Linked DNA regions of Homo sapiens: region 1 is linked to region 2. Evidence: fine-mapped expression QTL. A gene starts in region 2. The other region holds a variant in brackets. All regions are shown on one strand. Distances are between the middles of the regions. Region 1 holds the start of LOC101929439 (a long non-coding RNA gene). Region 2 holds the start of TMEM266 (transmembrane protein 266).

Evidence for each region. PIP is the estimated chance that this variant, and not a neighbour inherited with it, causes the effect.
Region 1: its variant is fine-mapped to the expression of TMEM266 in visceral fat (GTEx, PIP 0.94).

Annotation. Positions count from the first base shown.
Region 1 is chr15:76,170,987-76,186,303 of GRCh38, reverse strand. It overlaps TMEM266 (transmembrane protein 266), which reads right to left. Exons shown (of 11, transcript NM_152335.5): 7 at 15,173-15,311; 8 at 10,630-10,745. LOC101929439 (a long non-coding RNA gene) reads left to right here and starts at 4,818. Exons shown (of 3, transcript NR_120360.1): 1 at 4,818-5,352; 2 at 7,520-7,758; 3 at 9,834-11,413. RefSeq lists enhancers at 4,418-4,467, 4,678-4,727. The variant G/A (reference allele first, on the strand shown) is at 7,890.
Region 2 is chr15:76,051,014-76,066,330 of GRCh38, reverse strand. TMEM266 (transmembrane protein 266) reads right to left here and starts at 6,346. Exons shown (of 11, transcript NM_152335.5): 1 at 6,315-6,346. It also overlaps a transcript of NRG4 not described here. RefSeq lists a silencer at 7,304-7,353 and enhancers at 8,837-8,886, 9,077-9,126, 9,187-9,236.

The sequences.
Region 1 (15,317 bases), 120 kb before region 2:
GTTTCCCAGGGGCCCTAGGACATTGGGGCCTCATGAGTCAGATGGGGAACTGAGGCCCGGAGGTGGGAAGGAGCCTCCTGTGCTGGGAGGGAGGATGGGGGAAAGGCCAGGACCACATGGTGCTTCAGAAGCAAAGCAGGGGCCACAGCCCACGCCCCTGGCTTCTAGCCCCCAAGACCTTGAGCCAGGGAACTTGCAGCCTTATAAGCAAGATGGAAGTGACTCAGCCCAACAGAATCCAGGGCAGCTTGATGGTAGCAGGGGCCAGGAGAACAGAAAGTCACCAGAGGGAAAAGCAGGGGCTGGAGGCTGAGCTCTTGGCCCATCACCCCTCCCTTGCCCTGACTTTGGGTGAGCCTCTTTTCTTCCCCGGGCCTTGGTTTCACTGTGTGTCCAATAAGGCAAATGGACTCACTGAATTCCAAGTCAATGACGAGCTCTGTACCAGCTCCAGGACCCCACCTGGAGGGAATGAAGTGTAAGTGCAGTTAAGGCTTGCTGCTGTCTTGAGGGCCATCCTCTACTCCCTGCCAAAATGCCCCGTTCCCAGAGAACCATCTCTTCAGAGAAGGATAACAGAATCCACAGCCTCTAAAATGCATCATCAATGATGTGTAGCACACCATGAGAATCATTCATCATGCAAGTAAGCAGAAAAACATGTGGTTATCAAGCCATAAAACAGTTAATAGAAGCTGACCTGGGTAAATATTTGAGTGAACAAACAAGGACTTCAAAATAACTACAATTAATATGTGAACAAAAATAGGGGAGAAAGACAGACAAAATGAGCGTAGTGTTTCAGCAGAGAGTTAGACTCTATAAAAAGAATCAAATCAAACTTTTAGAATCTTGATATACAGTATCTGAAATTGAGTAGTTGGTTGGATGGGTTTAACAGGAGATTGGACGTAGTAGGGTTGTTGAAGACAGGTCTATAGAAAAACATCAAAACTTACAGCCATTAAAAAAGGAGACAGGGAGAGAGAGAGAGAATGAATAGTGGAGCAGAGTAGGATCTAAGAGAAACGTGAGACATAATCAAATGGCCTCAGGTACAACTGGAGCTCCAAGAGGAGACGAATGAGACAGGTGCAATGAATAAAGAAACCATGGCCAAGAACTTCCCAAATCTAATAAAAAACATCAATCCACAAATTTAAGAAACTCCTAAGCAGAATAAATACCAAAAAACCCCACAGAAATCCACACAGAAGCACCTTGCAGTCAAACTGCTGAAAACAGGAAGAAACACAACAGGACGGGGCTCCCCAGGGCTCACACGGGCCTGTGCCTTAGGAAAAGAAGGTGCACAGTGGCTCCGATGAAGCAAATCTTCCATTGGCAAATGGGCCCGGTGGGAAAAAAAGACCATCCCTAGGCTTGGGAAGAATTAAAGTGCAGTCACAGCCCCATTTAGTGCACATCATTAGCTAAGTATTTCTAATCAGATAACCTGCCCAGATCATCTGGGATCCACAGGGAAGCCCGCAGTATGCATTACTGGAGTGAGTCAGGCCCCTTCCATCGGGGCCGGGCTTTTAATGCAAGCCCAGGAGGGGTCAGACCCACCGGGGCGGCAGGACGGGCACACCCAGCGCTTCTCCGCCTTTAATGGTCCGGTTGTGGAGTCCAATTGACACGGGCCTTGTCCTGATCAATGCACACTTTGGCCAGAAGCTCGATGGTATCTAATGCAATAGCAGTAATTCTGCTCCATCCTATTAGTGCTGTCTGCACAGGCTGCCCTGCCTTCAAACCCATCTGCTGTTGGGATAGCATCCAATGTTTATTTCCATTAGTTTCACCGTTGTTGGTAACAATAAAAATCAGGAGACAGTTGCAAACTAATGATTTAGGAGCAGAGTAAAGCTGAGATCGACCTTGGCCCCTTTCCATCCACTGTGAAGATGACTGGTAGTTGGCCATAAATTTAAATTATGGCAAAAGGATAACATAAGTTATTCCTCTGATGGCTGATTTTATCAGCTAAATAGGCTTGTCATTAAAGCTATCGGCTGTTTTACAAATCACTTCCCATCTTAAAAAAAATTTCACTTCCCACAGTGGAGATCCTGAATAATCCAGGTAACAAAGGCTATTGTGCTGAGCTGGGAACTTGTGGCCTCTGTAGGAAAAGAAGGAGCTCTCTGGAATGAGCCAGCCTCAAGCCCCGTCCCTGGAGCCAGCATGGAACCACGGCTTTATTCCTGCTATTCCTGCCCTTTGGCCCCTTTTCTGAGCTGCTAGCCCAGCCTCAAAGGCGAGTGACCTACGCAGAGCCGTTGGCATTCTCTCAGGGGTCCAGAAAACCAGGGGACAATGGGGTCCAGCGAGAGGCCTGGATGGGGAGATGGGCCCTGGCTCCCAATCAGACCACCCACCACCTCCCACGTCTGCTCCGGTTCCTCCACGTGAAAGACAGCGAAGGGGATGGAGGGGGGGCGTGACAGCTTCCTCTCCTCACATCTTCCTCCATCAGAAATGCCTACAGCTTGCAGGGTCAAGATTATCATCTTGTTTCTTCAGGAAAACAGGCCAGGGAGGCATGGCATTCCCCCAGGAAGGACTTTGATAAGTGTGGCTGTGCCGCCTGCTGTGGTGGAACCGGGGAAAGGGTAGGGAATGTTGTGAGCCCATTGGCCTTGTTTTATGGGTTGGGTGACTGTGCAGGCGACTGTTTTCTTCTTGGGCACAAAGACCACTTCTGACAGCATCTGGTGCCCCTAGTTGGTACTGTGCAACTGACTCTTGCCAATAAAACGGGGGCAGAGCAATATCACCATTTTCAGTCCTGGCCAATAAAAACCTGCTGTGCCCAATTCCCCAGCCTCACTTTCCTATCCACTGACTGGAGAAGACTCCGAGGACTTGGAGGAAGAAGGATCGGCCGGGCTTGGTGGCTCCCACCTGTAATCCCTGCACTTTGGGAGGCCGAGGTGGGTGGATCACTTGAGGTCAGGAGTTCGAGACCAGCCTGGCCAACATGGTGAAACCCCATCTCTACTAAAAATACAAAAATTAGCCAGGGGTGGTGACACATGCCTGTAATCCCAGCTACTCGGGAGGTTGAGGCAGGAGAATCGCTTGAACCCAGGAGGCAGAGGTTGCAGTGAGCCGAGATCATGTCACTGCACTCCAGCCTGGGCCACAGAGCGAGACTCCATCTCAAAAAAAAAAAAAAAAAAAAAAAAAAAAAAGCCACAAAATGGAAGCAGCCTGGAGGCCTGAGTGACTTGTGTGGAACAGAGGGTCCCTCCACCCTGCCCCATTGCAACCTGCATTGGAGTATGATGAGAGTGACAAATGTACTCCTCCTGTGTCAGGACTCAGATTTCTGGATTTGCTGGATGCAACAACTGGTGTTACTCACCCTAACTATCAGTGACTCAGGCAGATGCCTCTTTCTGGCGCAGGGAAATGGACACTGAAGCCCTGGGTTTCTTTCCTAGTCCCTCCATGAAAAACTACAGGATCTGGCCAAAGAATAGCCTCTCTGAGCCTCAGTCTTTCCATGTGAAGGGATTAATAGTACCCAGCCTGCCAACTTTCACCAGCAAAGGAAAAATGAGCTAAAACATGACAGTGCATTTGTGAATGAGCAACCATCATATAGATACATTTAGTAGTTTTTTTTGTTTTGTTTTGTTTTGTTTTTTTGTGACTGAGTCTCGCTCTGTCACCCAGGCTGGAGTGCAGTGGCATGATCTCGGCTCACTTTAAGCTCTGCCTCCCAGGTTCATGCCATTCTCCTGCCTCAGCCTCCTGAGTAGCTGGGACCACAGGCACCCGCCACCACACCGGGCTAATTTTTTATATATATTTTTTTTTAGTAGAGACGGGGTTTCACCGTGTTAGCCAGGATGGTCTCGACCTCCTGACCTCGTGATCTGCCCGCCTCGGCCTCCCAAAGTGCTAGGATTACAGGTGTGAGCCACCGCACCCGACCTCTCTCTTTTTTTTAACCCTTACTGAAAGCCTCCAGCAGGCCAGATTTAATTTGATGCATATGGCATCCACACGATGTAGGCCTTGTTACCTCCAATTTCCCCAATGAGAAGCTGAGGCTCAGGGGTTAAAGGGAAGATGACTGGTCACTGGTGGGGCTGAGGTTTGAATCTGGCTTGCTGGCTCCCCGAATAAGAGGATTCTTTCCACTCCTCCAAGCTCCCCGACAAGGGACTCACCTTTCCCAAGGTCTAAGGATGTCCTAAGGGGCTCACAGGTCCCACTGGTCTCCTTGGAGGCTGGACCTTGAGTCACCCCGGATTGAGCCTCATATCCCTCAGTATTTTGCCAATGATCTCAGGGTGAATGGTGCTGAGGAAGCAGAACGTCAGAGAAGAGAAACTAACTTCCACAGTGGGCCAGGTCAGATCATACTATTTTGTACCAAAAGCTGTTACCAGGCTTAAACATGAAAGAGCGGGTGTAACGGAGACTTCAGAATGTGTTTCGGAACTAGAGCGAGATCCCACGCATGGAGGTACATAAAACCTCAGAGGTGGTTTCGTGAGATGAGTCAGAAGAGTATATCGTTGCATTGATTTAACTGCTGCATCTAAAATGGCTTTGGTTTCTGAAGCAGCCAAGACAGAGAGAGAGACAAGGCATCCACACCGTCTCTCTGAAGGGCAGCCTCTAGCATCGTGACTTTGGACTCCATCTGTGTACCAGCGAGCCTAACTCGTCATGAAATTCTGGCCAAGATCCACCCCTCACCAAAAACAAACAAACAAACAAAAAGAATGGAAAAGAACTTCCACCTAAGGAATTGAGGAATTGCTGAATTCAGGGGTCAGAAGCCATGTGCTTCTATCACAGCAGCGGGGAGTCTGGAAGGGACTGCAGAAGGCATGGCCAGGGCTTTGGAATGGTATGACTGACCAGCAGAGAGACCTCCTCCCCTCCCGGGATCCTCTAGGCACCCCTCCCCAAGTAGGAATCTGTTAAGCATGAGGTGTGTCCACAACCAGAAGAGATCATAGGAATGAGGGAAGCAGTGAAGCCTGTTTCCCTGTCAAAGCCAGAGGGCCAGTGTGATCCAGGAGGGAAGGCACTGGAATGAGCAACAAGAGACCTGTTTTCGTCCTGGCCTCATAACTGCTGTGCCACGTTGGGCCCACCTCTCCCTTTCTCTGAGCCTCAGATGCCCCATCTGCCAAATCCTGGATTGGGCCAGCTGCCCTCCCCAGGGACCTTTCATCTGTTATATAAGGTGATTCTGGAGCACCTTGCATGTGGGCCTGTGACAAGAAATGAACTGCCATGTAGCACAGAAGGTGAAATGAATCAGATATTCATGCAAGAAACTGGCCAACAGGCTCACCTGAGAGTCTCCACAGGGTCACGGTAAGAAGCAATGTAATCTTTCTTAAAAAGTTAAGATGGGCTGGGTGCGGTGGCTCATGCCTGTAATCACAGCACTTTGGGAGGGTGAGGCGGGTGGATCACCTGAGGTCAGGAGTTTGAGACCAGCCTGGTCAACATGGTGAAACCCCGTCTCTACTAAAAATACAAAAATTAGCTGGGCATGGTGGCAGGTGCCTGTAATCCCAGCTACCCGGGAAGCTGAGGCAGGAGAATCTCTTGAACCCAGGAGGTGGAGGTTGCAGTGAGCCAAGATGGCGCCACTACACTCCAGCCTGGGTGACAGAGTGAGACTCTGTTCCAAAAAAAAAAAAAAAAAAAAAAAAGCTTAAGATGAAGAAACAGAGAGTAACTGTGCAGTGGAGACACCTGACCCACGCTGCCCCAGCCGGGTGATCCAGGCCGCATCACAGTGAGAAGTCACGTGGCCAGTGTGTCCTCTTGATGTGAGACAATAAGAATGGCACTTTCCTTCTGCAGTCTTCCTCCCAAAACCCACAACCCCAGGCTTACCCTGGGAAAAACATCAGACGAATCCCAACAGAGGGGCATCCTGTAAAACAAAAACACCCGACCAGTGCTCCCCAAAACCCTTCAGGTCATCAGAAACAAAGTCTGAGAAATTGCCACAGCCAGGAGGAGCCTAAGCCTACTGAATGCGACGTGGAGCAAACAGAGGACATAACAGATTAAATACTAAGAAAACCTGAGTACCGTATCAATGTGGGTTTGTTCATTGTAACAAATGATACTAGTGTATGATGTTAATGATGGGCAGCCAGGCACAAGGGATACAGGGAACTCTGCACCTGCTTCACTATTTTTTGGTCAATATAAAACTGTTCTAAAAAATAAAGTTTATTTTTTTAAAAAGAGCTGGGTGAAGTTGTGGCAAATAGTTGAAATAGTTGTACAAACACACCCCAGCAAGAGAGCAAGGGAGTGAAAAGCGTTTTGTTTTGTTTTGTTTTGTTTTGTTTTAGAGACAGTCTTGCTCTGTGGCCCAGGCTGGAGTGCAGTGGTGTCATTACAGCTCACTGCAGCCTCAAACTTCTGGCCTCAAGCAGTCCTCCTGCCTCAGCCTTCCAGAGCACTGGGATTACAGGTGTGAGCCATCGCGCCAGGCCAGGTGTTGTATTTAAACTGGGACCCTAACACATTTCATTGGTAAATGTCAATTTTTCAGGCAGCATATGTGAATTCAGTTTGGAAATGTCTTCATTATACTCTGAGAATTCCAGCAAGGAGACAGCAAGAGTTTGTCACAAGGAATACTAGACTGTCCTGGAACGGGGTTGGGGGCTGCCATTGAGACAGCTGAGGGGAGCCAGGTCTGTGCCTGCAGTATAAAATACCCCATGCATAATCTGATCAATGTTTTTGCTGAGTGCTAAGTGCCATGAGTAGGAAAAAGGAGGCTCAACGTGATGGGCTGGAAAAGAACAGTGTTCACAGTTAGGACACCTGGTTCTATGCCCCCCTGGACTAGCTGTGTGCCCCCAAGGCGAGCTGCCACTGCTCAGTTTTCTTATTTGTAAAATGGGTGTGTGGGGCAGGTGTGGTGGGGCTGGTGGACTTCGGGGTCCACACCCATTAGTTGCTACCCATCATGTGTCAGGCTTTAGGCTACGATCTCATCACCATCCTTCGAGGATTCTATTACTACACCCATTTTTCAGATTAGGAAAACCAAGGCCCATAGATGTCCCATTAATGCCCAAAGCCACAAGGCCAGTAAGTGTTCTAAAGAGAGACACACCTGGGTTCGAAGCCAGCTCAAAGTCTATTTAGAACCAAGTCTATTCTCAACCATTCCATGGGCTGCTGTCTCCAAGGGTCTAGCCATCTCTGACATTCCAGGGCCCACAGTCTCATTTCCTCCAGGGTATCTGTTACCCAGTCAAGTCTCAAACCAGGTCTGAAAATACAGCTGCAAGTGAGGCATCTGTCTGCTTCGCTCTGTGGAGTGGGCACCACAGACTCCAGGAGAGCTGCCCTCCTGGTCCCTCTGGCCAGGCAGCCCCCACCCTCCCCGGTGGCCCCACTGGGAGTCCAGCCTGTCTGGCCCTTTCTGCTGTCTTAACTAAGATGACAGGCTTCAGGTGTTTTTTAAATTAAAATGGTTCGTTTCTGTTCATCTCTTTTCCAGATGTCGCTACCTAGAGGGAATCTGTCTTTATTTATTGGCTCTTTCCTGTGCAGAATGCAAGGGAGTCTCCCTCCGGCTGAGACCCCCGGGAAGGAGGCCACATGTGGAGGTGACTTGAACCAGGACGGCAGGAACCTGGGGTCCCCGGGGGGCTCCGGACAGAGGTCATGGTGGAAACCCTGGGAGGTGGGGTTGCCGTTAGGATTTTCTCCTGGCCACGTGGCGCATGTGTGGCTGAGGTGAGGTGTGCGGCAGGGTCAGCGCGTTCCCTGCTGGGCTGGGAGGCTGCGAATTTATGAGGGGCGGATGCAGCCCTGTGTCCGTGTCTTTCACGTTGCCAACTGCAGTGAAGTAGAGCATTTGTTTTCCT[G/A]TTCAACAGCAGAATGAGAACTGCCTGATCGGCTTCCAGTCGCTTTCTGGATGACACCCTGCACTTTACTTTCCCCACTTCCCTGCAGCCCCCTCTGCCTAAAGCCCAGCTTCTCTCACCTTCTTCTCCAGCCTCTGTCCCCAGTCTTCCTGTCTCCACCCTGCCCTCTCCATCCAGCCTCCAACGGCAGCCAGAAGGCTCCATCAACAACTCACATCTGAGCAGATCCCCCAGTCCTGCTTTTAATCCTCCAGGCTTCCTCTGTCCCAGCAGGATAAAGCCCAAACTCTCTGGTCAGCCACAGAGCCCCTTCCCAAGCCTGTCCCCAATCCTACTGCCTCCCTCTGCTCACCCTCTAAATGGCCCCGAACCCCGGGGGCACTGCACCCACTCGCACACCCCACACTGTTCCCTCTGCCTGGCAGCCTTCTCCCCAGGGCTCTGCTCCACATCAGCTCCTCTGGAAAGCCTTCCCCATCCTGGCCTGCAGAGCCCGGGACGTGCCCATGTGATACAGGCATTGCACCAGATTTCCACTGCCTATTTATGGGCTGCCAAACCCCCTGAGTCACCCAGAGCCCCGTGAGGACGAGGGTCACACCCTGTCCTAGGCGGCATCCACATGCCCGGCACAAGCCCAGCACAGAGCAGCTCTGGACGGTGCTGGCTAACCACGCGATATGGCAAGAGAATGAATGAAGCTGATGCCAGCTCCTCAGGAAGGGAATGCTTCTCTTCCTAGTCTAGGATTCCATAGCCTGCCCTGCTCTCGGGACACCTTGGACAACGTGCCCCTGAGGGCCATGTCCCCTGATGACCCCTCTTGTCACGCATAGGCATTCTGTGCGAAACAAAAGGTCATAGTGTTCCCAAAGCAGATAAAAAGATTGGTTTCCTGACAGACATTCCGAGGGGATGATTCTGAAGACACTGTGTGCGTGTTCCTGTGGGGACATTTCCCAGGATCACTTTGTTGTGACATTCCACAGACGTGTCCCCCACCCCAAAACTGTGAGAGGCTGGGGTTGGTCGAGGAGCCAACAGGTACAGTGAATATGCATTTACCAAGACCCGCAACAGAATACACATTTACCAAGACCCACGACATACACTGAACACACATTGACCAAGACCTACAACGCGCGGAGTGCTGGCTGGGGCCGGATGTGAGTTGGACTAAGGCTTGCCTTCAGGGGGCATCTATTTCAGCGGGAAGAGCTGCCCCAGGCATAAAGGAGCACTGACCATGGCAGTGAGTGCCCAGTGCCCTGTGAATGTGGACAAGTGAGGGCTGCTGCAGGGCTGGGGGAGGAGGTGCAGAGGCTACTGGCGGGGGGAACATGCTCTGTAGAGAGGCTAGGACTTGAATTAGACAGACAGAGCTTGCAAGGGGCGGGGATTCAGGCAAGGGGCACAGCGCAACCAAAACCCAAGAGGTGGCATGGCACAGGGCTTGTCAAAATGACAGGTGACTCCACTTGGCACAGTCGGGGTGTTTATGCACCAGACACATGAGAGAGGAGGTCGATAGGACGGGCAGACACATAGCAGGCCTGTACGCCACATGAGACCTCAACCCTGAGGCCACCTTGGAGACTGCCTGGGCACCCAGCAATGGGGGAGGAATAGGGAGCCCAGGGGTGCCCATCCTCACCGCACTGCAAGCCAGAAGGGCTCAGTGCCCACATCAATATGCGGCCACGGGCATTCCTCCACTTTCACTGGCAGGACATGGGCTGGAAGACAGCCCGTGAAGAACTCGCCTGGCCCTGGGCACAGAGAGCCACAGGCTTAGCGTCTCTGGCTTGCGCAGCTGGGGGCAGTGGCCCTGTCCTCTCCCCAGAATCCATCGGGCAGAATGGGAATGACCATGCATGTCATTTGGACCATCCCCCACATTCCCACCACCTTGCCAGTCCCCTCAGTAGCATTCCCACCTTACAGCCTGGGACCGGACCCTTCCCTGCACACCGAGCTGCACTTCTACAGAGCTCTCAGCCTTGCTGCGGGATCCAGCAGCCACCCCCTCCTGAGTACCCCAATCCCCCTCCTCTGAACTCCTCTGTCCCACTCACATGGGAGCAGCCACCTCATCTTACAGAGGAAGGAACTGAGGGCAGAGGGGTGGCCCAACTTGGCCGGAGTCCGGCGGGGTGGGAGCAGCAGGGCTAGGCCTTGAATGCAGGTCTCTGGATTCCCGACAGGGTGCCCCTGGCCCAGCTGCCAGTCCCCCTTGCCTCTGCTGAGCCCATCCTTGCAGGGCCCACCACCTGCCTCTCTGAGTCTGCATCACATCTCCTGGAGGGTAGAGAGCACCGCTAGCATCTTTCTGGGGCCCTGGGCGTCCCGCGTGGCAATGGGCATACCATGGTGCCCAGCAACCCTCAGCAGACAGAATTAGCGACTGGCTTTAGAGACCGACCATGTCTCCGAGAAGACTCTGATGAACTGAGGGGGCGACTTGGCAGACTCAGGTTGGGGAGCTGAAGAGTCACCGTGCTACAGTGGAAAGAACCCTGGCCTGGGAGTCAGGGTTGAGTCCATGCCTGGCTGGGCTATACATCAGTGAACCTGGAGATGTGTCCCCTTCTCTGGGCTTCAGGTTCCCCATGAGTCCAACAAGGGGCTGGAGGAACTCCCTGACCTCTGGTGCCCCTGCAGCTCTAGCAACCCATGGCTTTAGGCACTACCAGTGTCCCCAGCAAGACCACGGACAGAGCCGAAAGTGGCAGTGCATTACCCCTTGCTCCTGACAGATCTGCGTCAGCCTCTCCAGCTGCTCGTCTTGGATGACCTTGGCCTTCTCGTACTGCTGGATAACCATCTCCATCTCCAGCTTCACTGGCAGGACGTAGGCTGGAAGACAGAGACAGCCCTGTAAAGAATTCAGCAGTGGCAGGGCTTGGACTAGGGAAGGGCGGGCCCAGCATTCAGGCAGCAGCAGGTTCGAGGCCCTGGGCCATTTCTGTGGATCTAGAAGGGGAAATGTCCAGGTACCCGAGAGCATCCAGAAAGTACAGAGGGCCACAGCCTTCGCTCATGGTGTCCAGGGTAGCTGTTTTCCTGTTTTCCATAGTGCTAGAACCCATACTTTTGGGCTGTGTGCACAGCTGCCTGGAATAAAGACTATTTTCCAGCCTCCTTTGCAGCTATGGGTGGCCACAAGACCACCTTCTGGACCATAGGATGCTAGTGGAGGTGGCATGCAGCAGCTGCAGGAGCCTTCTTCACAAAGGAGCTGGGGCCAGTGAGGATGGGGCGGCCCTGGAGCCTGCACACACTGGCGGAAAGGAAAACGGGGCAACCACTTAGGGAAACGGTTTGTCCGTTTTTCAGAGTGTTAAACAGAGAGTGACCATATGACCCAGAAACTCCATTCCTAGGTACCTTAGGGGAAGGAAAACATGTGTCTACACAAAACTCGCACATGAGCATTCATAACAGCATTATTCCTAACAGTCAAAAAGTAGACATAACCCAAATGTTCATCAGCCGATGAATGCGTGAATAAACTGTGGTCTAGCCATGCAGTGGAGTACTACTTGGCAATGAAAAGGGGTGCAGTCCCGCCACCAGCCACAACACAGATGAGCCTCAAACACATGATGCTAAATCAGAGTGGCCAGCAGAGAAAAACCACGTCACATGATTCCATTTATATGAAATGTAATGGAACAGAACAGGCAACTCTATAGAGATGGAAAGCAGCTTAGTGCTTGCCTAGGGCTGAGGTGGACATGGGAAGTGACTCTGATGAGTGTAGGCTTTCTCTTTGGAGTCATGAAAACACTCCAGACTTAGATTTTTTGGTGATGGCTGCAGAACTCTGAATATACTAGAAACCACTGAATTGTGAACTTTTATTTTGAGATGGAATCTTGCTGTCACCCAGGCTGGAGTGCAGTGGGCGATCTCAGCTCATTGCAACCTCCGTCTCCCAAGTTCAAGTGATTCTCCAGCCTCAGCCTCCCGAGCAGCTGGGATTACAGGCACCCGCCACCACGCCTGGCTAATTTTTGTATTTTTAGTAGAGATGGGATTTCACCACGTTGGCCAGGCTGGTCTCAAACTCCTGACCTCTAGTGATCCACCCGCCTCAGCCTCCCAAAGTGCTGGAATTACAGGCATGAGCTACCATGCCTGGCTGAATTGTGGACTTTAAATGGGTGGATTTTACGGCATGTGAATTATATTTGGATGAAGATGTTTAAAATGAGAAGGCAGTGGGCCTTCCTTTTGCCTCTTTATCCTCTTCCCTTCCTCCTTCTTGGCTAGGATGAGGATGTGATAGTTGGCACGGAAGCAGCCATCTTGGACCATGAGGTGGCTTTGAAAAGTAGGCTAAGTGCAGCAGAGCAACAAAACAGAAAAACAGAAGGAGCCTGGGCTCTTGACTACAGGGAGTAAGTGACTGTAGTCAAGGCCATATCTGTCTTGGACCACCTTCCCACAGACCTCTTTTTTTTTTTTTTATTTTTTTTTGAGACCGAGTCTCACCCTGTCACCCAGGCTGGAGTGCAGTGACATGATCTCAGCTCACTGCAACCCCTACCTCCTGGGTTCAAGCGATTCTCATGCCTCAGCCTCCCCAGTAGCTAGGATTACAGGCGTGCATCACCACACTCAGCTAATTTTTATATTTTTAGTAGAGACGGGGTTTCACAGGGTTGACCAGGCTGGCCTCAAACTCCTGCCCTCAGGTGATCTGCCTGCCTCAGCCTCCCAAAATGCTGGGATTACAGGCATGAGCCACCATGCCTGGCCTGCAGACTTTCACGTGAATGAAATACGCTTCTGTGTTAAGACACTGTTATTCTGAGTCTCTGTTACTCAGATGATCCTATTTATAACTGATATAGTGAGACCCAGAAGAGAAAGCCTGGCCTCTGAGGTTGAGGGCCCTGTGCTCCACCAGCCAGCAGTAGTCCCACGGACACCTCCCTTGGTGGTTCTGTGGGTTCAGAGTAGCTCTGGGCTCCTGGAAGTCTCAGTGTCCACTCCTGACTTTAACACAGCCTTTCTCCTCACACTGTTCCCGCACCCCTCGAAACCCAGCCCTTCCTGACTCTTCAGAAGCCTCGGTCACATGCCTCTCTTGCCCCTGATTTCTAGAACCCTCCACATTTCCTCTCTCCAAGTCTCCTTTCCACCCACAGCCTCTGCACCTCCAGATGTTTCCTGGCTGTTGCAGGAATCAGCAGAGAAGAGACATTGGGACTTTTCTGCTTGAGGACCGGCCACGTGTCCCTGAGACCCATCTCCAGGTCCAGAGGCCGCCCCAAGATGCCGCTGCCTCCTCAAATCTCTGCTGAAGCCAGTTCACACCCAGGGTTAATTTGCAAGAGTAGCAAATTAACGCCCATCTGTTCACCAGCACGTCTCTCTCCTGAGGCTCCCGGTAGCTCCGTGATGCCTGATGTGTCAGGAAAAGGGCGGGACAGCTGGGAAGAGCGTCACAAAGGGGGCTCTCAAAATCCATTAGTGTGAGGGTGTGCGGCTGTTCACAGCTGGAAGAAAGACCCAGAAGGCGCTGATCCTGCCCCGAGCGGGGGTGGATGTTCTCATGGACAGAGCCAAGAACAGGGCCCTGAGCAGACTGCAGGGAGTGAGCAGCCGAAAGAGCGCTGGTGGGTGTCAGGGGTCTTAGGCTCCACTTCTGGTTCTGAGCCTGATTCACTATGTGACCCTCATCCTTCTTGGCCTCAGTTTCCCCATCTGTCAAATGAGGGGAGTGAACCAGGTGATCTCCCAGAGCCTTCCCAGCCTTCCGAAGGCTTCTGAAGTGAGACCCAAACACATTCCAGTTTGATGAAGATTCCCTACTGGGGGATCCCTGACAAGATGGCAGCATCTTCATCAGGACCAAATCCCACAGTGTTCGCAGGGTGGAACATAGGGTGAGGCCCAGGGAGAGGGAGCCCACCCTGAGGGTGACAGCTTCTGCCTTGCACCTGCGTGGCAAATGCTGGCGGAATATTCTCATGGCTTCAATTTTTATCATCTGCAATCAAAATTCAGGGCTGGAAAAGACCATAGCATCTATCCCAGTGGTTTTAAAACCGTGCTCCAGAAGGCCTGGCAGTTTCTTAGAGGTGCCTCAGAGGGCAAGGGAGAAGGCAAGTAGGTGGGCTGTGAGGCCCCTCCACTCCAAGTCAACCAAAGCAGCTCCACTTGCAATCTCTTTTACAGACTGGGTACGATTTTGCTGAAGAAAGGGCTTTGCTGTCAACCAAACCAAACCAAACCAACAAAACATCCTGGGAACCACTGTCTATACAACCTCCTGGTCACTCTAGGGGGACCTCTCTTGGAGGCTGACCAGCCCCCTATGAGTGGCTCTGTTCCTTATCTGGCTGAGGTGGGGTGGGCCTCTTCGTCCTGTCCTCAGGGACCAAGGACACCCTCTGGAGCCCAGCGACTTGAGTCTTCCCCCTTCCATAAGATGACTTCAGTGTCCTGCCTCTGTCGTCATCCTCTGGGTCACCCCCCACCCCCAGTATCCTGCACCATTCTTCAGGGGTGGGTTTTCTGTCCCCCATGTCCTCTGGGCCACTCACTCTGGTCTGTCACCACCTTCTGGAAACACAGGAGCCACCCAGGTCAGGGCACAGCTTTCCAGACAAGAGTGGCCCAGTGGGGTGGCAATGATAAAGCAATGACAAAGGAGTGGACCAGATACTTTCTGCAAATGGAGACCCAGGGATGGAAAGGCACGTCACTAAAGATGACAGAAGCACATGCCAAAAGCCAGCCCCTGCCAGCAGCTCCCTTCTCTACTTGTTTGCAGGTCAATGGGCTTGTGGGCAGCCAGATTGTCCTTGGTGGACTCAAAGGTGAGACAAAGCCTGCAGGGAGCAAGGCCTTGACTAGATGACCTGGATAGAGCCAGTGGTGAGGCTGGCAGCCATCGGGGAGCCAGCAGCAGGTGTGCATCGAGACGCCCAGGGTGTAAAAGTCTGCTCCTTCCAGAATGGCAGGCCCTGCTCTAAGGGCTTGCATGGGGGCTGGCCCCCCCAGGCTCACAGTAAATAGCTGCATGGGAATGAACACATGGCCCCTAAATGGGAAGTGGGAAGCTCAGCGTGTACGTGTGACACCCTGGCAGTGTGCATGAACGCGTGATGGCGAGTGAGCAGGGACAGCTGGCCCCTCTCCCTGCCGACAGTTTCACCTTCCGTCCTGACGCCAGCAGGGTGTACCCCCATCACACGGCATCTCCTCTCAGTTGAAAGCCCCACTTTCTGGAGCAGCCCCACTGACCACACCCCCCTCGGGCCACTCACCATCAATGACCCTCTTCACCCTCCAGATCCGGAGCATGATGATGAGGCTGATGGCGTCCCAGGGGCTCCTGGGTCCATTGGCCACAGTGGATGCCACCATCGGAGCCAAAGATAGGATGATCACAGCCCCGTCAAACACCTGTGA
Region 2 (15,317 bases):
CCTCCTCGTTCCAAGAAGGTTCTGACATGGGTAACTCTCCCTGTGGTGTTGACTTAATTATCCCGTATCAAGCTTACATGAGCTCCAGGACTGATCAATACAGGTTTCAATTTAGGAGGAAAAAGGATTTTGGAAGGGCCAAGTAAAACCATAATGTTTTGGCAGTTAAAAGATATGAGTTAAATTCCCACTATGTGTAAAGTTATAGTGCTAAATGCTGAGGAAGATATTTTTTAAAAGTATAAATCACAGCTGGTGCCCTTAAGTAATTCATACTCTGTCTGAGAGAGACAGGCTCCATGCCCAAGGGAGGCTGTCTTCTGCTACAAAGCAGGCTGTGCTTGGTGGCTCCTGGGCAGGGGCACCCCTCGGCATTCTTCCCTCCTCTGGCCAGGGAAGGAGGGGCAGAATAGGAAGAGGTGAGGGTGGTTGAGTGGGGAGTGCGCGGGACAAAGCCTCAGAAGTGGACGCACACTGGGGAGGGTCTGAGATATAAACAAACTAAACGAGAGCCAGATCTTAGAGGTCCTGATGGCTAGAGGGAGGCATTTGGGTTTTATTCTAAAGTTACAGGCATGTACACAGGAAGTTATATGATAAAAAAAAATAGCATTTGTTGGGTGCTTACCCTTTACTAAGCATACTATTTAATCCTCTGCCGTAGCTACTCTTCTCCCCATTTTACCGATGAGGACACTGAGGTACGAGGGTTAAATCACTTACTCAAAGCTACTCTAGCAAGTGCTAGAGCCAGGATTCACATCACAGGCAGAGCCCACACTCTTAACCACTTCAGACTGCCTCTTGATAGAACAGGAAGGATGACAGCAGAGGAGAGACCAGATAGACACGGACACCGCTAGGAAGGAGCTGCCGACAGACAGCATTTCAAAGAGTAGAGGAAGTCAATGGGGTCAGATGTTGCTGAGCCATCATGAACGAAATCTGAGAAACAGCCATTGGATTTATATTAGGCAATCACCGGTGACCTTTAAGAGTTCTGTTTCAGTAGAGGGGTGGGGGCAGGAGCTCCTTGCAGGGTATCAAGAAGGGCAGTGATAGAGCCTTGCATAGAAACTGACAGTTAAAAGACAGGGAGAAATGGGAGAGAAATTTCCAAGCTTTTCTTTTGAGACTGTGTCCCAAAACAATGGAACTTTTTCTTTGTTGAGGAATTGCAATATATTTCACCTTGTTCTTTTGTTTTGATGGGCAAAGCTAACAAATTTTAGGAGTCATGGTTAAAGGAGAATTAGTAACTGTCATAGAAATTGTTTTTTAAAAGCCCTGCATCAAATTCAGGTAAAGTACAAAGATTTGACTATTTCAAAGGAAACTGTCATGGGCAGAAGGTTAATTGGCCTTATGCATTGTATTGGCTGGAGAAAATGGCAATTGTGTAACCAGGGTGGGATGGTGTGAGGGAATTGTAGATAAAATAACTTGCTTCAGACCTGTTTTGAGCCAAGGGAAAGAAGCTGAAGCATTGCATGCATTACGGCTTGACAGTGAAATCTAGAGAACAGCTGCCTGGACTTCCAAAAACCTGGGCTGCAAAGGGCAAAAATACTTATTAAAATTCCTTGTTTTAATGAGTTCTGGGAATAGGAGTTATCAGCCTCTGTCCTAGCTACTAAGTAGTTTCTATTACAAATCAAAAGCAGTTTTAGGGAGGCTGTGTTTTTTGAAGGGGAAATCCTCTCCTGGCGGGTAATTCAGACTGCCTAGGGCAGCAATTAAAGCCATCCGGGAGGAGGAGAGGAGGCCTTTGTGGCTGAGGAGCAGTTTCTCCCAGGCTTCTTTCCATAACCATGAACTCCCTTTAGCATCCCAGTGTAGTCCATTCTAAAGTGTTCTGCAGATGAATCAGTCCTCAAAGTGCCTATGATTTTGCTACGGCCCAAGAACTACTGCAAACAATAGATGAATGAAAGATATATGTGGAGTCCTTCCTGGGACTGCTTACACCAAAGACATCTCAGGCTGTGATGCTTCTCAGACACATGGGGTAAGTGCTTTGGCAGTGAACTCTCAGACCCTGGCTCAAACAGGGATGACACCAACAGGTATTTAATGTTTAAAAAATGCAACAGGCTAATAATGCAGGCAGTGCAAGGATTCACCTGTCTGTGTAAAAAGCCAGTAGGAATGACCGTAGGCTCCTTTTCCTTTCTAGTGACTCAGGCCACTGGGAGAGTTGATGGATGGCTGAAGGAATCCAGAGTCTCCTTTGGAAGTTCTTCAAAAACATTATGCATTCCCATTACAAGGGAACCCACACAGATCTCTTCTCCATCCCAGGCCATCTCCCCACGTACCATTTGCTGCCTCGTCACACATCCCAACCCTCAGGTGACTTTTTCCCCATCTTTACAGGTTCCTCTCTTCCCAACACCGGCTCAAGAGTAAGCCAGATCTTTCCCGATTCTTCTCTACTTTCTTGCTGTTCCCCCAAACAACACATAAAGCTTTTGCATTTTAGAGGTTTCATTGCTCACTACAGAGAACAGTAAGGACTAACAAAAACAAAAAGTGTGGGAAGCTGGAAAGATTCAAGGATACCATAGTGATTTGTTGATTCTTTTTTCACAGTACCAGAGTTGGGGGAGTGAACAAAATACACAGAACCCCTGCCCTTTGGAGCATTCATTCCATGGGGGAGATGGGCAATACACTTAACAACTAATTAATATAGTAGGCTAGGAGGTGCTACGAATAAAAGCAAGACAGGGAGGAGGAAAGGATGCTGTGGGAGTGGGGATAGTTTTAAAGGAGTGGTTGGACTATGAGCAAAGCTGAAATGAGGCGAGGGACTATGAAGATACCTGTGGGAAGAGTATTCCAGGGGAGAGAACCATTAGTGCTAAGGGCCTGGGGCAGGGGGTACAGCAAGGAGGCCAGTGTGGATGGAGCAGAATAGGATGGGAGGCCAGAGAACTATGGGGCAGAAAGTGCTTCATCTTGCAGTCAGGGTGCAAAAGGCAATGAGCCCAGAGTTTGAGCTATGCTGACTTGGGCTCAAATCTTGGCTCTGCCCCTTAGGTCATATACCTTGGGCTCCCCCACTTCTTATCATATAAACAGTTGACCACAAAGGGTGGTCACTGCAATATGAGATGTGAAACTTCCTATCACAGGACACAGCACACGACAGCCATAGTAAGAAACAGAGACTGATGAAAATCAAGTATTTCAAAGTAATCTGTGAACTTTTGTGATTCAAGACTGTCGACAACTGAATAAAAATCTCATTTTAAAGAATACTAAATTAAGAAATACTTTAAGAAAAAACACATTTCATAATGAAGTAGCTTACAAGGTCGATCAAGGAAAAACAAATATCCCAGTTTTAGTGCCTTATTCAACAATGTACTAAAATATTCATTATAATCAGTCACCACAGACATGTGAGTTTCATAGCTTGGAAAACTTTTCCCCCACTCTCCCAAAAACTCTCGTGAAGGGAATAAAAACAAATAATGCTTAAGCATTAATAGTTTCCCATATGACTTTCCCAGTTTAAATATATGTTTTAAGAGAAAAAAAAAGTAGTCCAGAAACACTTTTATATTTCCTGAATTGGCCTTTGCACGATAAAGCCTTCTCAGCTCTGCATTAAATGAAATCCTGCTTGAATGGAAGACAGCAGACTAGTCCGTTTCTCAAACTCTTCAATCATGAGATTCCCAACTGAAGAAGATAGTGATGCTCCCCACAGGAAAACTCATTTCCTCCCCAGAAATCAAGTAACACCTCTTGCTTTCTGCTTCTTGCCCAGTAACATCAGGACTCATCTTGAGTTTATCTGATCATAGACTGGAAATCCCCAAGACAGAAAGATCCTGTCTCAGCATTTCTGTAAACACCAGGGAATGTGCTCCTCCTAAACTGAGTGTTTCCCACGAGGCAAGAATACTATGTACAAACCGCTATACTGTTTCAAAAGAACAGTGTAATGAAAAAGGTAACATCATGTTGCTCTAAAACCAATCACATTGACCAAGGCAAAAACAGAGCTTATAAAATTAAAAGAGATAGTCTTATATTTCCTACTTAATATTATTCATCAATTTATAATTAAAAGCTGTTATTTGCATGGGATATACTTTCCAAATAATTCCTTCTATTCACCTATACCTTTCTCACCACTATCTCAACTATGTGACCTGAGTAGAAAAGCTATTAGCCCCACTGGGTGAATTTTCACTGATGCAACTACAGCAATTTCTAAGTCCATGAGAACTGCTAGGAATGTTTAACAAAATCCAATACCTGCATTATAATAATGCACTTTAAAAAAATGATTAAATACACATCCATAGCTGAATGCAGAGATTCCAAGAACTTTGAATGCATAATTGCTACAATCATAGAGAGACTGGATTACGAGCCACGGCTGGTACGGATGGATTCCTTCCTCCCATTAAGGCACTCACAGGCAAGTGTGATAGACAATGTTGCTCTGATGACTGGCAGTGAGACCAGAAGATAGTGTGAAGGGCAGCAAGGAGGGTAGGGTGGGATGCGATAATGGAAAATGGGAGTGATTCATTCTACTTAATGCATATACGTTTTATGGGTTTAAATCTGGAGGGAAACAACTTTTTAAACTCAACTCCTTGTGTGTGAGAATTAAATGGAAGCACATCTTGGACCCCACTTTTTATAGGTTTAGTGCCACCTCAAAAAATTCCATACTGATCCATTCTGAAACAACTGCTTTTCTTACTGGAAAGCCACAAAGTTGGTGCAGAATCTATGAAATGGAAAATTAGACCCAAGCCAACATGCTCATGCATAAGCTTGATTTTAATGAAAAGGTACACGGAGCAGCCGCACCTGGAGGAAAAGCCCCCTCAGGGCTCCCCACCTCCAGTATCCCCATGTGCTTGAGTTTGCATCCTTACCCTGTCCCTGACTGTGTGACCTTGGGCAAGTTAGTTAACCTTTCTAAGTCCTGGCTTGTTCATCTTCAACATGGACATAGCAGGTTTGCTGTGAGGACTAAATGAGCTCATACACAAATAGTTTTAGCTCAGTACCTGGTACATATGAACATTTAAGAAACATGTCCTTCTCGTGATTAGATGTGACACTCTGACCATTTTAGAAGCAATTACGGTTCAGCTATCATATCCCAACATCTTGTGATAACCATTTTCATTTTTTGCTTCTAGCTCTTACTATTCTTTTCATCACAATATTTTAGGGTGGAGGTATTTGGGGGAGGAGGTAAGCAGTTATATACATCCCATTTTCCCACTGTTGTTCAAAGCAAGGTGAAAAGCCAGGGAAATAAACACATGCACTGAAGAGAAATTCAGTCTTTAGGATATGATGTGATAGGTGTATGGAATATAAACAAATCATATAATTTCAACCTCTCACATATAGGGCATCAAATCATAGGTAGGTCTTATTTTAAAAGAAAAGCCAAGCAGCATTAAAGAGGATAGAGGGAACCCATATGGGCCTATTGCTAGCTCAGTATTGGTGACTGTGAAACAGGGATGGGTGAGCTAGATTACGGGGGTGTTTCATGGGGTCTGACTTCCAACAGGTGGCTAGCTTTAGTCATGTTCAGATGCAAAACCGTAATGAGTTTGAGTATGCAAGTCCCAGGGATTCTGTTGAAGGCCATCTTTTCTCGGCCATCAAGGGAGACAATTTTCTAGGTTTAAGCCTCCCTGGCAAGTTAGCAAGCAGGGAACTGCCTGCCCTAGCTTGCACCTGTCCCCTGAAGGGGATTCTGGCCTGACGGTGAAGACCCACCATCCCTTCCAGACAGCCCATTCTGCCGCTGGGGCACCTCCCGACAAACGGGGGAAGCCCACTAGGAAGTGGTCACGACCAACCAAGCCACAAATCCTCAGGGTGTGGGATTTCCACCTCTATACCACGTCTGAAAACCGAAAATAGGCGCCCGCTTGCCATACTGCAATGGGATTCCCCCCAGCAGCAACCCCCCCCTCCAGCTTGCATGTTTTATTAATAAATGCAAGATGGCACACGGAGGCAAAGAATGGGAGGTAAGGCATCTGCAGCTGGACCCGAACCAGGGCAGTTTGCAAAAATAAATAAGAAGCATGTGACAAGAAGCAGGTCTCCAGGCTGGAGCTGAAGCCCTGGGCTGCCCCACGCACCCTCGCCTGGCTCCCCCGGCCAGGGGGATGAAGGTCAGCGGCAAGATCCCAGCCCTTCCGAGCACGCATCCTGCAAACCTTGACCGGTCCCCCCACCCCCCGCCCCGACCACAAGACTCGGGCAGTGAGGCAGGGGAAGCTCTGGCCGCGGCCGGCTGCGAGGACACATACCTGCTGCCCGGGCTCGGGATTCGCTCGGCTCTGCAGCGGCGCCGGCCGCGGCTCGCGCTCCCGGGGCTCCCCTCTCCGCCCCCCCGCCCCCTCGCGGCCCCGCCGCTCCCTCCGCCCCTCCGCCCACCGCGCTCGGGGGCGCGCGCGAGGCCTCGCGCCGGCGGCTTGGCCGAGCCCGCGCCTGCGCCCTCGCCTCCCGCCGGCCGCGCGCGCGCGCCCCCGAGGCTGCGGAACGGCGGCGCGGCTGTCTAGGAAACCGCGGCGTCGGCTGGCAGGGGCTGGCGGCCTGAGCTGGGCAGGGGGCGGAGGCGGGGGCTCGGCTGTCTCCGGGGCTGCCACGCAGAGCGGGCTTCGTGGCGTGGGTGAGGGGGTCGCGGGGCAGGGTCGGGGCCTGAGTGCGAGCGTGTGGAGAGGCGAGGGGGCCGCGAAGGGTGGGTTTGACGGGGACGCAGGCGGGGCGCAGAAGCAACAAGTGCGGAGGCCGAGGGCGTCGCTCGGGGAAGCGGAGGACCCCCGCGGGATTTCGTACAGCTGAGAATGGGAACCTCCCGTCGCTTTGGCGCAGCGCTTTGCAGTTTCCAGAGCTCTTTCCCAGTTGCTCCGTTTCATCCGCGCGGGGCGCCCGGTGAGGGAGCGGATGGCACGCAGTGCCCGCTGCGCTTGGAGGCCACCGAGGGGAAAACACCTCTTTCTGTGTGGCCGGAGTCATAGCACGGTCAGAGTGCCTTGACTCTCAGTTGGCTGCCTGGGAGAAAAATACCTGTCAGTACATTCATTTGATGGCCTCAGCTCAGGACCCTTGTAGGACCGTGTTTCTCCTCTTTTTCCGTTTTTCGTTATCTGACTCTTAAAAAGGCTTTTTACACGTCCCCATCTCCTTTCCCCGTGAAATCCCAGTACCGCAGATACACTGTCGACCTGCTTATGTGCTGTATGTGTTATCCGTGCTTGATGCATAAAAAGTAACATTGCGCCCCTTGGAGGCAGCATCGCCCCGGTGGAGAAGCCTGTCCTAGGGCCATGATTGCCAGTTACCGGGTGGGTTAAACGGAACCACTGAGCAATCTGGATGCACCCACAGATATTCTCTGTGGTTAAAAAAAAAGTCCTCACCCATAATGGGTACTACTCTAATTAATGTTTGCAAGGGCTGCTGTGAATACGGCCATTTAAGCAGCTTCTGGATTCATAGTAGCTTATTATCGTTTGTCTTCTCCACCAATTCTTGCTAAAAATATAGCCATTTTCCTATAGGGTGTTGCGATTTTTATCTTAAAATATTTGAAAAGATGGGAAACCCTTGTTTCTAGGACACGGAGTTTCAGAATGGCTTTTGGCTCTGCAGATAGGTTTGATTTCTGATTCTTGTACCTCTTCTAAAGTGTTTTTATTTGATTAGGTCCAGTTGGCCTCCCAGGAATGTCCTTTGTCTTTTCTTCCTGCCGTAGCTTTTTTAGTATGGATAAAATGAAAATGGTAGAGTTGAAGGACTTCAAAACCACCTCTTGGAATTGCCCCACGGTCTTGGACTACCTTCCCTGGATTATACGGGAATATCTATACAGGGAGTATCTACTTTTGGCAAACTGAGAAAAAAATGTAAAATTTCTTCAGATCCTCCTTCGCCTTTCAGCATTTCCTACTCATCTCTAATCTCTAATGGTGGAATTTCAGAGGAAGAAACACTTGGAGATGATACTTGTGGAAGCTACCTGGGTTGCCAAAGGATTTTTCTACATTTCTAGACGGAAGAAATGTGGACTAGAATAGAGAAAGTGGAGATGGGTTAAGAAAAATTAATGGAGGATGCACGGGAGGGGAGCTATAGTTTTCTGACAGTCAGTGACAGCATTTTAACTAGGTACACTTTCTTTAGAAAAAGCTTTGGCATAGCTTGCCCAGATTGTTATCCACTCCATTTTCCACCTTAGTAGAACTCTACTTAAGATTTGATTGAAACTATTGAGAAGCATCCAGTTATAACGCTAATTAACTCTCAGAGTACGACAAGTATTTTGAAACTTGCTGAGAGAAATTTGAAGACCACTTCAAATTTCTACCAGGAATCTTTGTATCCTAATAAAATTTTTTTGAATTCGGGTTCATGCGACTTCAAGGGAACATTTTTTTCTACAATGGCTATTTATAGTATAATAGCCATTGTAGAAAATATTTATATTTATAAATATTTATATTATGTATTTATAATATAATAGCCATTGTATTGAAAATTACATGCTAATAAAGTTTACGTGTGTCTTAAGTGTTCTGGGTTTTGTCCTTTTCTGAGTAATCCGAGTTAATGGAAATTGTAGGTGCAACCATTTCATGTTGTAGTGTGAAGTCAAAAATCCCAAAACATGTATAATTTGTCAACTCTATGCTGCCCCCTGGTGATGTCTTACTTCACAGCACCTCCCCAAACTAAAATCTCCCTTCGATAAATTTTTTAGGGTATTGAAAACTTAAGTGTGGACGAGATGCCATTCTGCATTCTTCAAACTGGGCCTTCTCTTGTTTTCAAATACCCTGAGGCCTAACACCGGAGGAGGATTAGCCCTTGAGGCTGATGAGGCTAGAGGAACTGTGAAGATCTGCCACAGATCTCACTTTCACTTGGAGCATTATTCTTGAACTTAACTGGCTTATAAGACTCACTTGGGAACACTTGCTTAAAATCAGATTCTGTGAGTCATAAATTCAGCTGATTAGAAAAAAAAATCGGATTCTGGAGCCTCCTTTCAAACACCTTGAAATCTAATATCAGGGGGTTGACTTGTGATTTTTTTTTTAACTGCCCCAGGTGATTCTTATTGACAGGAGAGGGTGGGGGAATCCTAGAGCTATAAATAGTACAGGTGCTGCTTCAGTACACTGCAGGTGACTAATGAGAGGAATTTTGTGAGTAAAGGAGCTTAGTAGCAACAGGAAAGTATAAGAGCTGTAAAGCAGAAGTGGAACTGTGGGTTTAAGCTTGGTATATCACTTCCTTGCCAGACATAACTGTTCGTTTCTAACGTGGCTGTAGTTGGCATTCTCTCTCATACCAAGATACCTTTTGAGGTAAGTCAGATTTTCTTTTAGTTAAAAAGACTGCCTTTTCAAGAGTACCAGGATCACATAAATGGAAAATTTGTACATGTATGTAGCTGCAAGATTATGGGAGGATAGATTAGAGATGATGTTGATCCTGTGAATGTCTGAAAAAGATTGGTAGCAGAGTTAAAGCTTTTGTTCTCTTGAGATAGTTGCTTGTGAAAATAGAACAAGTGAATCTGATGCCATGTGATTTGTGAAAATTTGAATAATGCCCAAAGTCCTTAAATTGTTAATGTGATATAAATGTTAATATTTTGAAAGCTCTTCTAAATGTTATAATATAACCTCACTTATTTGGAATGTACAGGTAGAAAGCCAATCTGAGTTGGTAAAAGCCTGAAAAATGGAATATATGTGACTTTGTGTGGTATTTATTTTAAATTTGAGTACATACAATATCTAAGTCGTTTTTTATTTTTTAATTTAATTTTATTTTTATTTATTTATTTATTTATTTTTGAGACGGAGTTTCGCTCTTGTTGTCCAGGCTGGAGTGCAATGGCGCAATCTCGGCTGACTGCAATCTCCGCCTCCCAGGTTCAAGCAATTCTCCTGCCTCAGCCTCCCTGAGTAGCTGGGATTACAGGCATGCGCCAGCACACCCAGCTAATTTTGTATTTTTTTTTTCTTTAAGTAGAGATGGGGTTTCTCCATGTTGGTCAGGCTGGTCTCGAACTCCTGACCTGAGGTGATCTGCCTGCCTCGGCCTCCCAAAGGGTTGGGATTACAGGCGTGAGCCACTGCGCCCGGCCGCTAAATCGTTTTTTTTAAAAAAATCCTGTTGAGATGACTTTAGCAAATAAATATGATTAGTAACTAGCGACATTCATGTGCATGCAGTCTGTGTGGATACAATACCATGGACTCAGTAGGCTCTCAATAAAAATTAATTGTAAAGTTTTCTCCTAAGTAGGTTAAGAATACTTAATGCAGCAAGCCCATCTTCAAAGATAGTACTTAGAGCAGATTTTACCTTGAATGGCATACCAAGAGTGGGGCAATAAGAACAGTAGATCTTGGGTATGGACAATAGTAATTCTCATTATCTGTAGAGAATTTAAACTACAGTAAACCCACTAAAAGTCTGTTTTTTATTTCCAGTAATTTTTATGTACCAGTAATTCTAAACTGTGTCAATAATAAAATAGTCCTCCATGAAAAATCTCTCATGGATCTGGATTTTAAACAATTTCTGTAGTCTCTGTTAAGTTTTAGTATATGAATTTAAACTTCAAATCAGCACATTTTAATTATTTTTTTAATAAACAGTATATTCTACATGGAAATTAATTTAGAGAACTCCCACTCATACAATTGTCCTTCAACAAACATGGACCCAGCTATTGTATATATTTCCAAGTAAACTCATAAAAGTTCAGGGTAATTCAAGATTTAAGGCACAGTTCATGTTCGCAACCCTGGTGGTCCATATTCCTGCATTTAAACAGTAGATTCTTTGTAAACAATGGTAGCACAGTGATTTTAAGGATGAAGAGACAGAACTTGATTACTTAAACATTGTTCTATGTGACCACTTAGAGTTTTTGTTTATGAAATTTAAGAGTGAAACATAGTGTAAATTTTAAGGTATAATATTTTTGTTTCATGGAATTATCCTCTTGAATAATTTTTTTTGAGACAGGGCTTTGCTCTGTTGCTCAGGTTGGAGTGCAGTGGCACAATCTGGGCTCACTGTAGCCTCCGCCTCCGCCGTTCAAGCAATTCTCCTGCCTCAACCTCCCGAGTAGCTGGGACTACAGGCGCCCAGCACCACGCCTTGCTAATTTTTGTATTTTTTTCAGTAGAGTTGGGGTTTCACCATGTTGGCCAGGCTGGTCTCCAACTCCTGACTTCAAGTGATCTACCCACCTCAGCCTCCCAAAGTGCTGGGATTATAGGCATGAGCCACTGTGCCCGGCCCCCTCTTGAATAATTGAATTCAAATAATACATTTAACTTTGAATTTTTTTCTTTTTTCATTGTTAATAGTTGCTTCAAAACTAAAAAAGAAATCAAGAAAAGAGGTGTAATGTTATTTAGTACTGCAAACAAACCAGTACATTGGCATATGTGTTTTTTATTTTTTGAAAATGTTAATTTCATTACAATTTCCTTTTTTGTACTATAATACTTACTTTATTTTCTATTGGTATATAAGTGGAGTTGAATTTCCACTGTCTCTTTCCTATTGTTTCATTTCATGATTATTACTGAAAAATAATTTTATCACATAGAGGAAGAGGTAATAAAAAAATGATCCCTCTGACCTGAGGTCTGGAGTTTGAGACCAGCCTGGCCAACATGGCGAAACTCTGTCTCTACTGAAAATACAAAAATTATCTGAGCGTGGTGGTGGGCGCCTGTAATCCCAGCTACTTAGGAGGCTGAGGCCAGAGAATCGCTTGAACCGGGGAGGCGGAGGTTGCAGTGAGCCAAGATCGTGCCACTGCACTCTAGCCTGGGCAATGAGAGCGGAACTCCATCTCAAAAAACAAACAAAACAAAACAAAACAAAAATGATCCCTCTGGCTGGGTGCAGTGACTCATACCTGTAATCCTAGCACTTTGGGAGGCTGAGGCGGGCAGATCGCTTGAGCTAAGGAGTTCAAGATCAGACTGGGCAATCTGGTGAAACCCCTTCTCCACCAAAAATATTTTAAGAATTAGCCAGATGTGGTGGTGTGCACTTGTGGTCCCAGTTGCTCGGGAGGCTGAGGTGGGAGGATGGTTTGAGCCTGGGAGGCAGAGGTTGCAGTAAGCCAAGGTTGCACCACCGCACTCCAGCCTGGGTGACAGTGTGACACCCCATCTCAAAAAGAAAGAAATCCCTCTGGATGTCAGATGTTCTAAGTATATTAATGGGCCCAAATGATCACCACGTGAATGGTATTCAGTTTTTAAGTGAGTTCAGTTATGTGTTTGATATTTGGAATTTTGCATGTACTCTATGAAGAACCATTCCTTTGGCTACACAGTTCACGTGCCAAAATGGAATATCAGCGAGTACATATACATGTATTGAAAACAAAAATGATCCACTATTCCAATTGTGGTATAATTAAGCTATTTTAAAACCTAGCAAGTACAGGCCGGGTGCAGTGGCTCACGCCTGTAATCCCAGATCACTTGAGGTCAGGAGTTTGAGACCAGCCTGGCCAACATGATGAAACCCTGTCTCTACTAAAAATACAAAACTTAGCTGGGCGTCGTAGTATACGCTGGTAGTCCCAGCTACTCGGGAGGCTGAGACAGGAGAATTGCTTGAACCAGGAGGCGGAGGTTGCAGTGAGCCAAGATTGTGCCACTGTGCTCCAGGTGCCACTGCTCCTGAGACAGAGCAAGACTCTGTCTCAAAAAATAAAAAATAAGTAAAAATAAAACCTAGCAAGTACATATCCATGTAGTTATTGATAGAATCCTAGTAATTGCTGACATTTATGGAATACTTGCCATATGTCAGACACCATTCTATGTGCTTTATATATACTAATTTATTTTTTTTGTAGCAGTCCCATTGGGGAGTTATAGTTATTAATGTCATTTTACAGATGAAGAAACTGAGGCACAGAGGGATTAAGTAGCCTGCTCAAGATCACACAGCTAGTAAGGAACCAAGATTCAAACTTGGGCAGTGTGATTCAGAGACTTTAAATTCAACGCTGGTGCCTCACTGCCTCACGTATGTACACAAAGTTGTGCCTAAATAAGTTTGAGGAATCATTAAGTAGTAGGAAAAACATTCTGGATTCCAGAGTTCCAGCTCCAGTTCATTCTGTAACTATGAGTAAGGGAAATAAATCAAAGTCTCTAATTTAGAGAGACTTGTGCTTACTTCATCTAGAAGTTCTCTAAGTTTTTTTCTAACTCTAAATTTTTATGATTCTACGATTATTTTCACATAAAGGAGAAAATTTGTCTTTTTACTTTCTAACAGACTAAAAGTGAATCAGAAAAATAAAGAACCAGCATCAAATTTGAAGGTAGATACATTTTTGATGTTTTGTAGTTACAAAAATATACTATTCTTAAACCTTTTATGTTCGTTATTTGTATGACTACAGAAAGCCCATAAACTTCTGAATAATTGATTGTTGCATTCTAACTATTGACTGGAATACAAATTCGTATTTTTAATATATGCCACTTTGATATAATTAAGGTAACCTGAGCTATTGCCTTGATCTTAGTGCCATATAAAGTAAAAGCTCTTTGGGAAAATTAACTTTCTAAGTGGAAGATAGATCATATACTACTTTTTTTCCTCTTCTTTCCCACAAAGACTACCACCTTATTAAAATGACAAGACATATTAGGCTTCTGTCTGTGATAATACATGTAACATTTTTTTCTTGGGGAACACAAAACATAAAAAGTGGCTTTCATAATAAAAGAAATGTAATTCCTTGTCCTTACAAAATCCCTGTTTGCATAGTATGAAGTGGCTCCTCACCACCATCTGATCTTTTAATAAAATTCTATTTCCCTCTTAACCCAACTCCTAGCCTTTTATTTGGAAATAGTAACAGTAGTTTTTCTGGGACTTAAAAAGTTGTGAAAGGGGGAAAAATTAAACATGTCAACAAAGTGAAACTTCTGCTTCTTACTAAAAAGTCCTTTGAGGTATCACTAAGTAAAAGAAAAACATTGATATGAAATTTGCATATATATTCTACTTTCCTTCTCTTCGTGTATTACTAAAATTGTTATATAAATATTCTGTTCTTGCTTATTTCTTTATAGTGGCCACAAATTCTATTAAAGCAGAAGAAATAGTGGTGAACCATAAAAGAGAACCAGTTTCCTCTCTATTCTGCAATTTAGAGGAAAAATTTTCATCCAAGGACAGATCAGGTAAGTATTCATTCTTTTTAATGTTTTGGGGCTATATATGTAGCCATAATTTGTTAATTATAATCCTAGATCATTGGTTTGATTTAACTAAGAGACAATAAGGTAGTCTCTGCAATATGGAAAATTCCGTAATTTTTAATTTTATGGGTTTCAGTTCTGTTTGAGAAGACTGTATGTATAGAAGTATGTTCAATTAGGCTGGGCACGGTGGCTCACGCCTGTAATCCTAGCACTTTGGGAGGCTGAGGTGGGCGGATCACAAGGTCAGGAGATCAAGACCATCCTGGCTAACATGGTGAAACCCCGTCTCTACTAAAAATAAAATAAAAAAAAAGATTAGCCAGGCGTGGTGGCGGGCGCCTGTGGTCCCAGCTGCTCTGGAGGCCGAGGCAGGAGAATGGCATGAACCCCGGAGGCGGAGCTTGCAGTGAGCCGAGATAGTGCCACAGCACTCCAGCCTGGGCGACAGAGCGAGACTCTGTCTCAAAAAAAAAAAAAAAAGAAGATTGTTCAATTATATGTTAACTATTTATTTAGAAAAGTAGAAACAACAAAGTGCTGTTGCTGGTTAAGTTTAAGTCTGGTCTTTGTGATTTAAAAATAACATGAATAGAATTCAACTTTTAGGCTGAACACAGTGACTCACGCCTATAATCACAGCACTTTGGGAAGCTGAGGCGAGAGGATCGCTTGAGCATAGGTGTTCCAGACCAGCCTGGGCAACAGAGTGAGAGCCCGTCTCTATAAAAAAATAAATAAATAGGCCGGGCGCGGTGGCTCACGCCTGTAATCCCAGCACTTTGGGAGGCCGAGGCGGGCGGATCACGAGGTCAGGAGATCGAGACCATCCCGGCTAAAACGGTGAAACCCCGTCTCTACTAAAAATACAAAAAATTAGCCGGGCGTAGTGGCGGGCGCCTGTAGTCCCAGCTACTTGGGAGGCTGAGGCAGGAGAATGGCGTGAACCCGGCAGGCGGAGCTTGCAGTGAGCCGAGATCCCGCCACTGCACTCCAGCCTGGGCGACAGAGCGAGACTCCATCTCAAAAAATAAA